Homo sapiens: one gene and its partner. The protein of the gene in region 1 purifies or fractionates together with the protein of each later gene. This does not show direct contact. Each region holds a gene or a part of one and is shown in the gene's direction. Other genes may lie near its edges. The genes, in order: ADAR and HDLBP.

The links.
Region 2: the proteins of ADAR (region 1) and HDLBP purify together in Homo sapiens (affinity purification with western blotting; 2 studies listed by BioGRID, with this or other methods). This does not show direct contact.

Annotation. Positions count from the first base shown.
Region 1 is NC_000001.11:154,581,445-154,584,370, reverse strand, and holds the end of ADAR (double-stranded RNA-specific adenosine deaminase), read left to right. Parts: 3' UTR 1-2,314; downstream 2,315-2,926. UniProt on the Homo sapiens protein: Catalyzes the hydrolytic deamination of adenosine to inosine in double-stranded RNA (dsRNA) referred to as A-to-I RNA editing.
Region 2 is NC_000002.12:241,249,383-241,256,678, reverse strand, and holds part of HDLBP (vigilin), read left to right. Parts: coding exon 1-79; intron 80-279; coding exon 280-495; intron 496-1,098; coding exon 1,099-1,305; intron 1,306-1,520; coding exon 1,521-1,628; intron 1,629-3,181; coding exon 3,182-3,286; intron 3,287-3,643; coding exon 3,644-3,722; intron 3,723-6,698; coding exon 6,699-6,838; intron 6,839-7,296. UniProt on the Homo sapiens protein: Appears to play a role in cell sterol metabolism. It may function to protect cells from over-accumulation of cholesterol.

The DNA of each region.
Region 1 (2,926 bases):
AGACCCCTCTACTTCCCCTCTTTCCCTTCTGAGATTCTTTCCTTGTGATCTGAATGTCTCCTTTTCCCCCTCAGAGGGCAAAGAGGTGAACATAAAGGATTTGGTGAAACATTTGTAAGGGTAGGAGTTGAAAACTGCAGTTCCCAGTGCCACGGAAGTGTGATTGGAGCCTGCAGATAATGCCCAGCCATCCTCCCATCCTGCACTTTAGCCAGCTGCAGGGCGGGCAAGGCAAGGAAAGCTGCTTCCCTGGAAGTGTATCACTTTCTCCGGCAGCTGGGAAGTCTAGAACCAGCCAGACTGGGTTAAGGGAGCTGCTCAAGCAATAGCAGAGGTTTCACCCGGCAGGATGACACAGACCACTTCCCAGGGAGCACGGGCATGCCTTGGAATATTGCCAAGCTTCCAGCTGCCTCTTCTCCTAAAGCATTCCTAGGAATATTTTCCCCGCCAATGCTGGGCGTACACCCTAGCCAACGGGACAAATCCTAGAGGGTATAAAATCATCTCTGCTCAGATAATCATGACTTAGCAAGAATAAGGGCAAAAAATCCTGTTGGCTTAACGTCACTGTTCCACCCGGTGTAATATCTCTCATGACAGTGACACCAAGGGAAGTTGACTAAGTCACATGTAAATTAGGAGTGTTTTAAAGAATGCCATAGATGTTGATTCTTAACTGCTACAGATAACCTGTAATTGAGCAGATTTAAAATTCAGGCATACTTTTCCATTTATCCAAGTGCTTTCATTTTTCCAGATGGCTTCAGAAGTAGGCTCGTGGGCAGGGCGCAGACCTGATCTTTATAGGGTTGACATAGAAAGCAGTAGTTGTGGGTGAAAGGGCAGGTTGTCTTCAAACTCTGTGAGGTAGAATCCTTTGTCTATACCTCCATGAACATTGACTCGTGTGTTCAGAGCCTTTGGCCTCTCTGTGGAGTCTGGCTCTCTGGCTCCTGTGCATTCTTTGAATAGTCACTCGTAAAAACTGTCAGTGCTTGAAACTGTTTCCTTTACTCATGTTGAAGGGACTTTGTTGGCTTTTAGAGTGTTGGTCATGACTCCAAGAGCAGAGCAGGGAAGAGCCCAAGCATAGACTTGGTGCCGTGGTGATGGCTGCAGTCCAGTTTTGTGATGCTGCTTTTACGTGTCCCTCGATAACAGTCAGCTAGACACACTCAGGAGGACTACTGAGGCTCTGCGACCTTCAGGAGCTGAGCCTGCCTCTCTCCTTTAGATGACAGACCTTCATCTGGGAACGTGCTGAGCCAGCACCCTCAGATGATTTCCCTCCAAACTGCTGACTAGGTCATCCTCTGTCTGGTAGAGACATTCACATCTTTGCTTTTATTCTATGCTCTCTGTACTTTTGACCAAAAATTGACCAAAGTAAGAAAATGCAAGTTCTAAAAATAGACTAAGGATGCCTTTGCAGAACACCAAAGCATCCCAAGGAACTGGTAGGGAAGTGGCGCCTGTCTCCTGGAGTGGAAGAGGCCTGCTCCCTGGCTCTGGGTCTGCTGGGGGCACAGTAAATCAGTCTTGGCACCCACATCCAGGGCAGAGAGGTCTGTGGTTCTCAGCATCAGAAGGCAGCGCAGCCCCTCTCCTCTTCAGGCTACAGGGTTGTCACCTGCTGAGTCCTCAGGTTGTTTGGCCTCTCTGGTCCATCTTGGGCATTAGGTTCTCCAGCAGAGCTCTGGCCAGCTGCCTCTTCTTTAACTGGGAACACAGGCTCTCACAAGATCAGAACCCCCACTCACCCCCAAGATCTTATCTAGCAAGCCTGTAGTATTCAGTTTCTGTTGTAGGAAGAGAGCGAGGCATCCCTGAATTCCACGCATCTGCTGGAAACGAGCCGTGTCAGATCGCACATCCCTGCGCCCCCATGCCCCTCTGAGTCACACAGGACAGAGGAGGCAGAGCTTCTGCCCACTGTTATCTTCACTTTCTTTGTCCAGTCTTTTGTTTTTAATAAGCAGTGACCCTCCCTACTCTTCTTTTTAATGATTTTTGTAGTTGATTTGTCTGAACTGTGGCTACTGTGCATTCCTTGAATAATCACTTGTAAAAATTGTCAGTGCTTGAAGCTGTTTCCTTTACTCACATTGAAGGGACTTCGTTGGTTTTTTGGAGTCTTGGTTGTGACTCCAAGAGCAGAGTGAGGAAGACCCCCAAGCATAGACTCGGGTACTGTGATGATGGCTGCAGTCCAGTTTTATGATTCTGCTTTTATGTGTCCCTTGATAACAGTGACTTAACAATATACATTCCTCATAAATAAAAAAAAAACAAGAATCTGAATTCTTAGAAAGTTTTAAGTCCTGGTTTCTTGGGGGAGGTGAAAATGGGAACAAAGGGACCTGTGGCCCTGGGGTTTCTGATAACAGCACCAGTGGCATCTGACATGAACCTGTGGGGGACAGGGCTGTCCCTCAGCCTTTGGAAAGGAGCCATTTCAAAGAACCTCCCTTTGTGGGTAAATTTGCGTCTGGGTGGGGTGGGGTTCATCAGGCACCTTTTGATTACGTACCCAGCAGGGCCCTTCCCCAGCAGAGCCCACGATTGATTGATTGATTGATTGATTGATTGATTGATTTAGAGATGGAGTATCACTCTGTCTCTCAAGCTGGAGTGCAGTGGCGCGATCTCGGCTCACTGCAAGCTCCGCCTCCCGGGTTCACGCCATTCTCCTGCCTCAGCCTCCCGAGTAGCTGGGACTACAGGCGCCTGTCACCACGCCTGGCTAATTTTTTTGTATTTTTAGTAGAGATGGGGTTTCACCGTGTTAGCCAGGATGGTCTCAATCTCCTGACCTCGTGAGGTCCACCTCAGCCTCCCAAAGTGCTGGGATTACAGGCGTGAGCCACTGCTCCCAGCCAGAGCCCACTATTAAATATCTTGTCCCACGGGACTTGAGACGCAA
Region 2 (7,296 bases), on another chromosome or scaffold:
CAATCAGATCAAGATCACTGGCACCAAAGAGGGCATCGAGAAAGCTCGCCATGAAGTCTTACTCATCTCTGCCGAGCAGGTGAGGCCTGTGTGAGTGCCTCGTGCCCCTGCCTACCTGCTTGTGCAGACCTCACTCCCTCATGGGTTGCCGTGTCCAGTGTGGACTTCAAGGCATAATGTGGTGGGGGTGGAGGGCTTGACTCCAACTCTAAAAAGCCCTGTCTGTCCCCAGTTTGTTTTCAAAGGCCTGTTCTCATCAGATCATCCCTTCCTTTCCAGGACAAACGTGCTGTGGAGAGGCTAGAAGTAGAAAAGGCATTCCACCCCTTCATCGCTGGGCCGTATAATAGACTGGTTGGCGAGATCATGCAGGAGACAGGCACGCGCATCAACATCCCCCCACCCAGCGTGAACCGGACAGAGATTGTCTTCACTGGAGAGAAGGAACAGTTGGCTCAGGCTGTGGCTCGCATCAAGAAGATTTATGAGGAGAAGGTACACGATTTAGAGGAGGCAAATCCCCATGGGCAGGAATAGAAATGAGGATTTGGGTCTGGAGATTCAGTTAAGGCCTGGTTCTGCCCCTTATCTTTTTGTCCTTGATGAAGATGCTTATTGTCTCTACACTTGAGTGACCCGGGTGAGATCGGTGCCCGCCCCCCCTTGCTGTTGAGCATCTGCCTGGCAGTTGTCCTTGCCGTCCTGGGCCTCTGACTGTGCTGACAGGCTGCCAGCTGGGCTGCCCCGGGTCAGATGCACATCCCGGACTTGTTCACGTCTTAGATTAAGCTGTTAGCTCAGCTTAGTGAACTTTGAGGTCTGAAACGTGTTCCTTAATTGAGGGAAAGGATTGGGTGTTTTGCAGTGTTCAAGGACGAAGTTATCAGCCGGCGGGTGACTAGACTGAGGGGAAAAATCCAGTCCTTGAACAGTGAAGTTTCTGGGGATTGGCTAGTCCTGATCACTTGTTGTTCACTTCTTGGGATCAGCATCTATAGTCTGGGCCGCTTTGGCTTGCTTTCTGCAGCAGTGGCCATGCCCACCTGCCCGCTTCCCACACCTTTCCCTTTGACTGCCCCTTATGGTGCTCTTATTTAGAAAAAGAAGACTACAACCATTGCAGTGGAAGTGAAGAAATCCCAACACAAGTATGTCATTGGGCCCAAGGGCAATTCATTGCAGGAGATCCTTGAGAGAACTGGAGTTTCCGTTGAGATCCCACCCTCAGACAGCATCTCTGAGACTGTAATACTTCGAGGCGAACCTGAAAAGTTAGGTCAGGCGTTGACTGAAGTCTATGCCAAGGTAACTGCCTCCGAGCATGAAGTGTGTCTCCTTTGAGTGGAGTCCGCGGGGCCTTCATGGATGAGCTCTCGATTTGTAAATCCTGGGGCCTGGACACAGTGCAGGTGCCCAGGTTTGGGGAGAGCGTGCCTCTGAGCCCCAGGTGAGCAGCCTGGCTTTCACTGTGACACGACCTTGAGCTCTGCAAACCCATGGCTGTTCTCCCATTTTCTTAGGCCAATAGCTTCACCGTCTCCTCTGTCGCCGCCCCTTCCTGGCTTCACCGTTTCATCATTGGCAAGAAAGGGCAGAACCTGGCCAAAATCACTCAGCAGATGCCAAAGGTAAGGACACGTTTTTCACCTGTTGTATTGAATTTGTCTTGTTTTCTGTCTTTCTGTTTCTGATATTGCTTTGTTGACCTTTGTACTGTGGATGCCCTTGAAAACTGGTGTATTTTTCTGAATTAACTGGCCTGTTTGACATGGTCAACTTCCGTGTTAGCTTAAAGAACAGCAGAATAAATGTCTGTAGATGTCTGTACCATCCTTCTGGCCTTTAACCAGAGAGGATTGTATGTTCTTAGGTTTCATAAGTATCTTAAGAAACATGTCATTTAGTAATTATGGTGAAATAACTTCATGATACTTTGGCGGGCCGGGTGCGGTGGCTCATGAGGTCAGGAGATCGAGACCATCCTGGCTAACATGGTGAAACCCCGACTCTACTAAAAATACAAAAAATTAGCCGGGCTTGGTGGCGGGCACCTGTGGTCCCAGCTGCTTGGGAGGCTGAGGCAGGAGAATGGCGTGAACCCGGGAGGTGGAGCTTGCAGTGAGCCGAGATGGCACCACTGCATTCCAGCCTTGGCGACAGAGCGAGACTCTGTCTCAAAAAAAAAAAAAAAATACTTTGAAGAGCAGAACTTGTATACAAATTGTATTAAGTGTGAATTTAAAGCGTTCTCAGTTTACCAAAGGAGATTGTAGCCCCCAGGAAACATGAACAAAAAAGAAATACCAGAGAATCCAACCATCATATTTAATTCCTGTTTTATTTAAACTTTGTTTCCAATTAATGTTACAGTCCTTTTTAAAAATTAAATTTTTTTTATTTTATTCCTTTTTTTTAGTGACAAAGCCTCACTCTGTCACCCAGGCTGGGGTGCAGTAGCGCAGTCATAGCTCACTGCAGCCTTGAACTCATGGGTCAAGTGATCCGCTCGTCTCAGCTTCCCAAGTAGCTGGCACTACAGGCGCCCCAGGCTAGTTTTCGTGGAGGCAGAGTCTTACTAGTTGCCCAGGTTGATCTCGAACTCGTGGGATCAAGTAGTCCTCCTACCTCAGCCTCCCAAAATATTGAGGTTATGGGTGTGAGTCACTGTGCCCAGCCCCTTTTACTTTGTATAGCTTCATATAAGGACCAGTCTGCCTTCCTTAACTCCTTACCTGGAGGATAATAAACCAGGAACTCTGGCAGCCTTGTCTATGTCAAGCAAGTTACTTTACCACCTTGGTACAGCTATACGAGTTTTAAAATTCCATCCGTGCTCTGTCTCATTCTTTATGCAACTCAAGAGGACCAGGCCTTGTAAAAGTTCAGATGGTGGAGGAGCATGTCGCATGTCGCATGCTTTATGTTAGTGGCTTCTGTGGGGCAAACGGTGTCCTTAGTGAGAGGCAGGATTATTCGGCCACAGTATTTAGTTTCCTGACTATGGCTCCCTAACCCTCCCTTTCAACTTTGTTTGATGGCTGTGGATATGTCCCTCCCTCCCTCACATCTATGTGAAGCAGTTTGGGATCAGAAGCCGCTCCGAAGAGAGCTCCCACTGGGAGCTCAGGGGCTGCAGCTGTGCCATTCTGTTTTAGCTATCTCTTTGGTTTTGGTGTGGTAGGTTCACATCGAGTTCACAGAGGGCGAAGACAAGATCACCCTGGAGGGCCCTACAGAGGATGTCAATGTGGCCCAGGAACAGATAGAAGGCATGGTCAAAGATTTGGTAAGGTACCCCTTGGAATGTTGTGTGTGCTGGTGACAAGGGAGGCTCTGAGTTGGGCATGGGCGGTCATCTCTCGATGACATCCCACATGTCCGGGCACAGACACCCAGGGCATCCTAGCTGGGTGAGTAATAGGTTCTGAAACAACCAGAAGCTGGTCGAAGTCCTGGAATAATCGTGGGTGGAGGAAACTTCATCTTGAAGAAGGCATCTTTCAGGGGAGATGCAGGGGCAGTCTCCAACAATTCCTGACAGCTGAGTGGTCAGAAAAGGCAACCGTGGAGACTGCTGGGTTTTGGTTCAGCTCATTGGCCAAGTAACCAGGCGCATCCATGGACCTCTGTGCTCCTCCTGCAGATTAACCGGATGGACTATGTGGAGATCAACATCGACCACAAGTTCCACAGGCACCTCATTGGGAAGAGCGGTGCCAACAGTGAGTGAGGCTGTCTGTTGCGGTGGGGCCAGTGTGCCCTGAGACCCTTGTGGGGGGTGTCAGCTGTGAGAACTGTGACGTCCGTGCAGACAGTCCAGGCCCATTGCTGCCTGTAATGGGAGTTACAGACTTTACATCCTCCTGCCTGCTGGAAGAGGCCACTTTTCCTTTTCCCTTTGGTGCAGTGGTTGGATTAGAGCTGCTTGGCCAGTGGGTGAATTGTCACTTTTGGAAATCCATCTAAGCCCTCCCCAAATAACCCACAGAGGCCATGTTGAAGGCATGCCCAAGGGCAGCATTCTCTATATTTCCGTCAGACCTGCTAGGTTAGCCAATCAGTGTTGGTAGTACTCATGCCTTCTGAACGTGGAAACTGCTGATCTGGAACTCACTGAAGAGTAAAAACATTCTAGATTTGTGCCCAAGTAAAACAACATGGGGAGGGATACTTTTTTGAGACAGGGTCTCACTCTGTCACCCAGGCTGGAGTGCAGTGGCGTGATCTCAGCTCACTACAACCTCTGCCTACCGGGCTCAAGCAATTCTCCAGCTTCAGCCTCCTGAGTAGCTGGGACTACAGGTGCATGCCACCACAGCCAATTAATTTTTGTATTTTTAGAAGAGACGGGGTTTCACCATGTTGGCCAGGCTTGTCTCAAATTCCTGGGCTCAGGTGATCTGCCCACCTTGGCCTCCCAAGGTGCTGGGATTAAAAGTGTGAGCCACCACACCCAGCAGGGGGATTCTGTTGAAGAGGCAGTGATATGTCAGCCAAGGTCGCTATATGCCTCACCTGTGCCAGGTTGTAGGTGTAGCACAGTTACAGGACACTGTTGGAAGTATGTCATGTGGGCCAAGGTCGCTGTGTGCCTCACCTGTGCCAGGTTGCAGGTGTAGCACAGTTACAGGATGCTGTTAGAAGTGTGTCGTGGGCATTCTGCTGCAGGTCCAAGGATGTTTTGTGTTGTTTGTTTGTTTTTTGGGACGGAGTCTCGCTCTGTCACCAGGCTGGAGTGCAGTGGCGTGATCTCAGTTCACTGCAACGTCCACCTCCCAGGTTCAAGCGATTCTCCTGCCTCAGCCTCCCAAGTAGCTGGGATTACAGGCGTGCACCACCACACCCAGCTAATTTTTTTGTATTTTTAGTAGAGATGGAATTTCACCATGTTGTCTAGGCTGGTGTCAAACTGCTGACCTTAGTTGATCTGCCCACCTCGGCCTCCCAAAGTGCTGGGATTACAGGCATGAGCCACTGTGCCCAACCAAGAATGTTTTTTTACACCTCTTTGTTTAACTGTATGGCTATACTCACACACTCGCGTGTTCTGAAAACAAGTGCACACGTCGCGTGTGTTACCTTTGGGTGGAAGGTGAGAAGGCAAGCACGTCCTCCATTCCTGGATAGTTCAGTGGATGAAGGAGCCTTTCCCAGGTAGTGGGACACCGACCTGCATAACATGACTGACGTCCGTGTATCCGTTTTTGTTATGAGTAAACATAGCCTTGGCAGCTGTGCTGTGGCCTGTGCAATGGTGAGCTCTCTGGTGTCAGTCTTATGTTTTGTGGGCATTTTACGTGACAGCGACGAGAGTCTGTAGGCACAAAGTGACCTTTTTGCGCACTACTTGAACCACACATACACCATAAACTTGCTTTTACGGTTTTGTTTTGGTTTTGGTTAACTGTAGCGTTTGTTTAGGCCTGACACGGTGGCTCTTGCCTGTAATCCCAGCATTTTGGGAGACCAAGGCAGGAGGATCACTTGAGCCCAGGAGTTCGAGATGAGCCTGGGCAACATAGTGAGACCCCTGTCTCTACAAAAAAGAAAAATTTAGCCAGGCCTGTGGTCCCCGCTGCTCTGGAGGCTGAGGCAGGAATATCACTTGAGCCCAGGAAGTCAAGGCTGCAGTGAGCTGTGATTGTATCGTGCCACTGCATTTTAGCCTGGGTGACAGAGCAAGACCCTGTCTCAAAACACATATATATGGAAGTACAGTAGTGTAAATCTAACATTAATTTCTGGTTTCTGCCCCCGAGAAATTGCAGAATGTAGCTTAGTCAGTCATGTCTGTTCTGTTTTCTTCTCATGCAGTTCCTAACTCTTGTCTTCTTTCGTAATCTAAAAAAACCTGCTGCCCAGCTCCCATGTCCTCTGCTTCTCTTGTCTTGTGTTGCTTCACCTGGCACAGCTGCATGTCCATGTTCCCCCCTCAGTGCATCGCCTCGTTGCTGCCTCTGCGTGTGCATGTGTTTGGGATGGACGCACAAAAAGCCCTCCTCGTGGTCCTTCCAGCAAGCTGGGCTTCCCTTTACTGCACAGTGGGCAAGATTCCTGCCTTGTTTCCTGATGATACGGCTTCTCCAGAGTTTGGGGGGCCTGGAACTCTTAACTTGGGGGTACTGGGTTCTATCCAGAGAGGTTGACAGCAGGAGGGTTTGCAACAGCACTTGTCTTGCAGACACAGTGAAGTGCTCAGTGTGAATCTGAGCCAACAGTAGATGGGGTCTCTGGGCAGCAGCATGGGCCCCACAAGGCTCTTAGGCGTCAGTGAGTGCTTTTGTGTGGAGTTAATGTGTGTGGTTTTTTTAACTTGAGAATAGTAGTTCCCAAACTTACTGCACATTAGAAACACCTGGAATCCTTCAACTATTCTGAAGCCCTGGCCAATACCCCAGACGAGCTAAATCCCAGACTGAGTGGCCCCAACCGTCAGTTATTTGAAGGTCTCGGGGCATTTCCAGCTTCTGGTCCAGGCTGAGAGCCTGTCCTCCAGAACCCTTGTGATCCAGGTGAAGATCATAACTGGCCCCCATTCTAGACAATGGAGATTTTTGTTTGGGAAGCTAAGCATCGTTTTTGGTGATGGGAATCACAGATAAGGTTATTTAGCGCTTTAGCGCTGTCCTGCCCAGTTATGTCATTGGCAGAATGTTGTTGGTCTGTGTCCTAAATGTGTTTCCTTTTGTGTTCCTAAGTAAACAGAATCAAAGACCAGTACAAGGTGTCCGTGCGCATCCCTCCTGACAGTGAGAAGAGCAATTTGATCCGCATCGAGGGGGACCCACAGGGCGTGCAGCAGGCCAAGCGAGAGCTGCTGGAGCTTGCATCTCGCATGGTAAGTGCCATGGCTGGGCCCTCTAGAAAGGCACTGGCCTTGCGTCTCTTGGCCCCCTCTAAGGAGTAGCGTGTTGTGGTGTGCGGCCTTAGAGAATGGAAGTCGACAAATCCCACGTTGCACTGGAACCGGATTGGACTCCCTGGGGCCACATTTCCTTTATCCTCCCCAGGTCACCTGCACGTCTTGTTCTCCATGGCTGTGTGCTGTGCTAGAAGGGCACAGAGACTGTGTGGCAGCGTCTTGGCCTTGGCCACACCCTGGGTGCCCAGATGCCTGGGTACCATCTCCAGAGATTGTGACAGACATTTCTGGATTCTCAAAGGCATCCCAGGTGGTTCTCATGTAAGGCCAGACTCGAGGATCACTGCAAACCTGAAGTGGGGGCTGTTGCTCTCTACCACCTGGCAGAAGCACTGCACTGCTCTGGGCTCCCCGACGTTTCATACATGCTTATG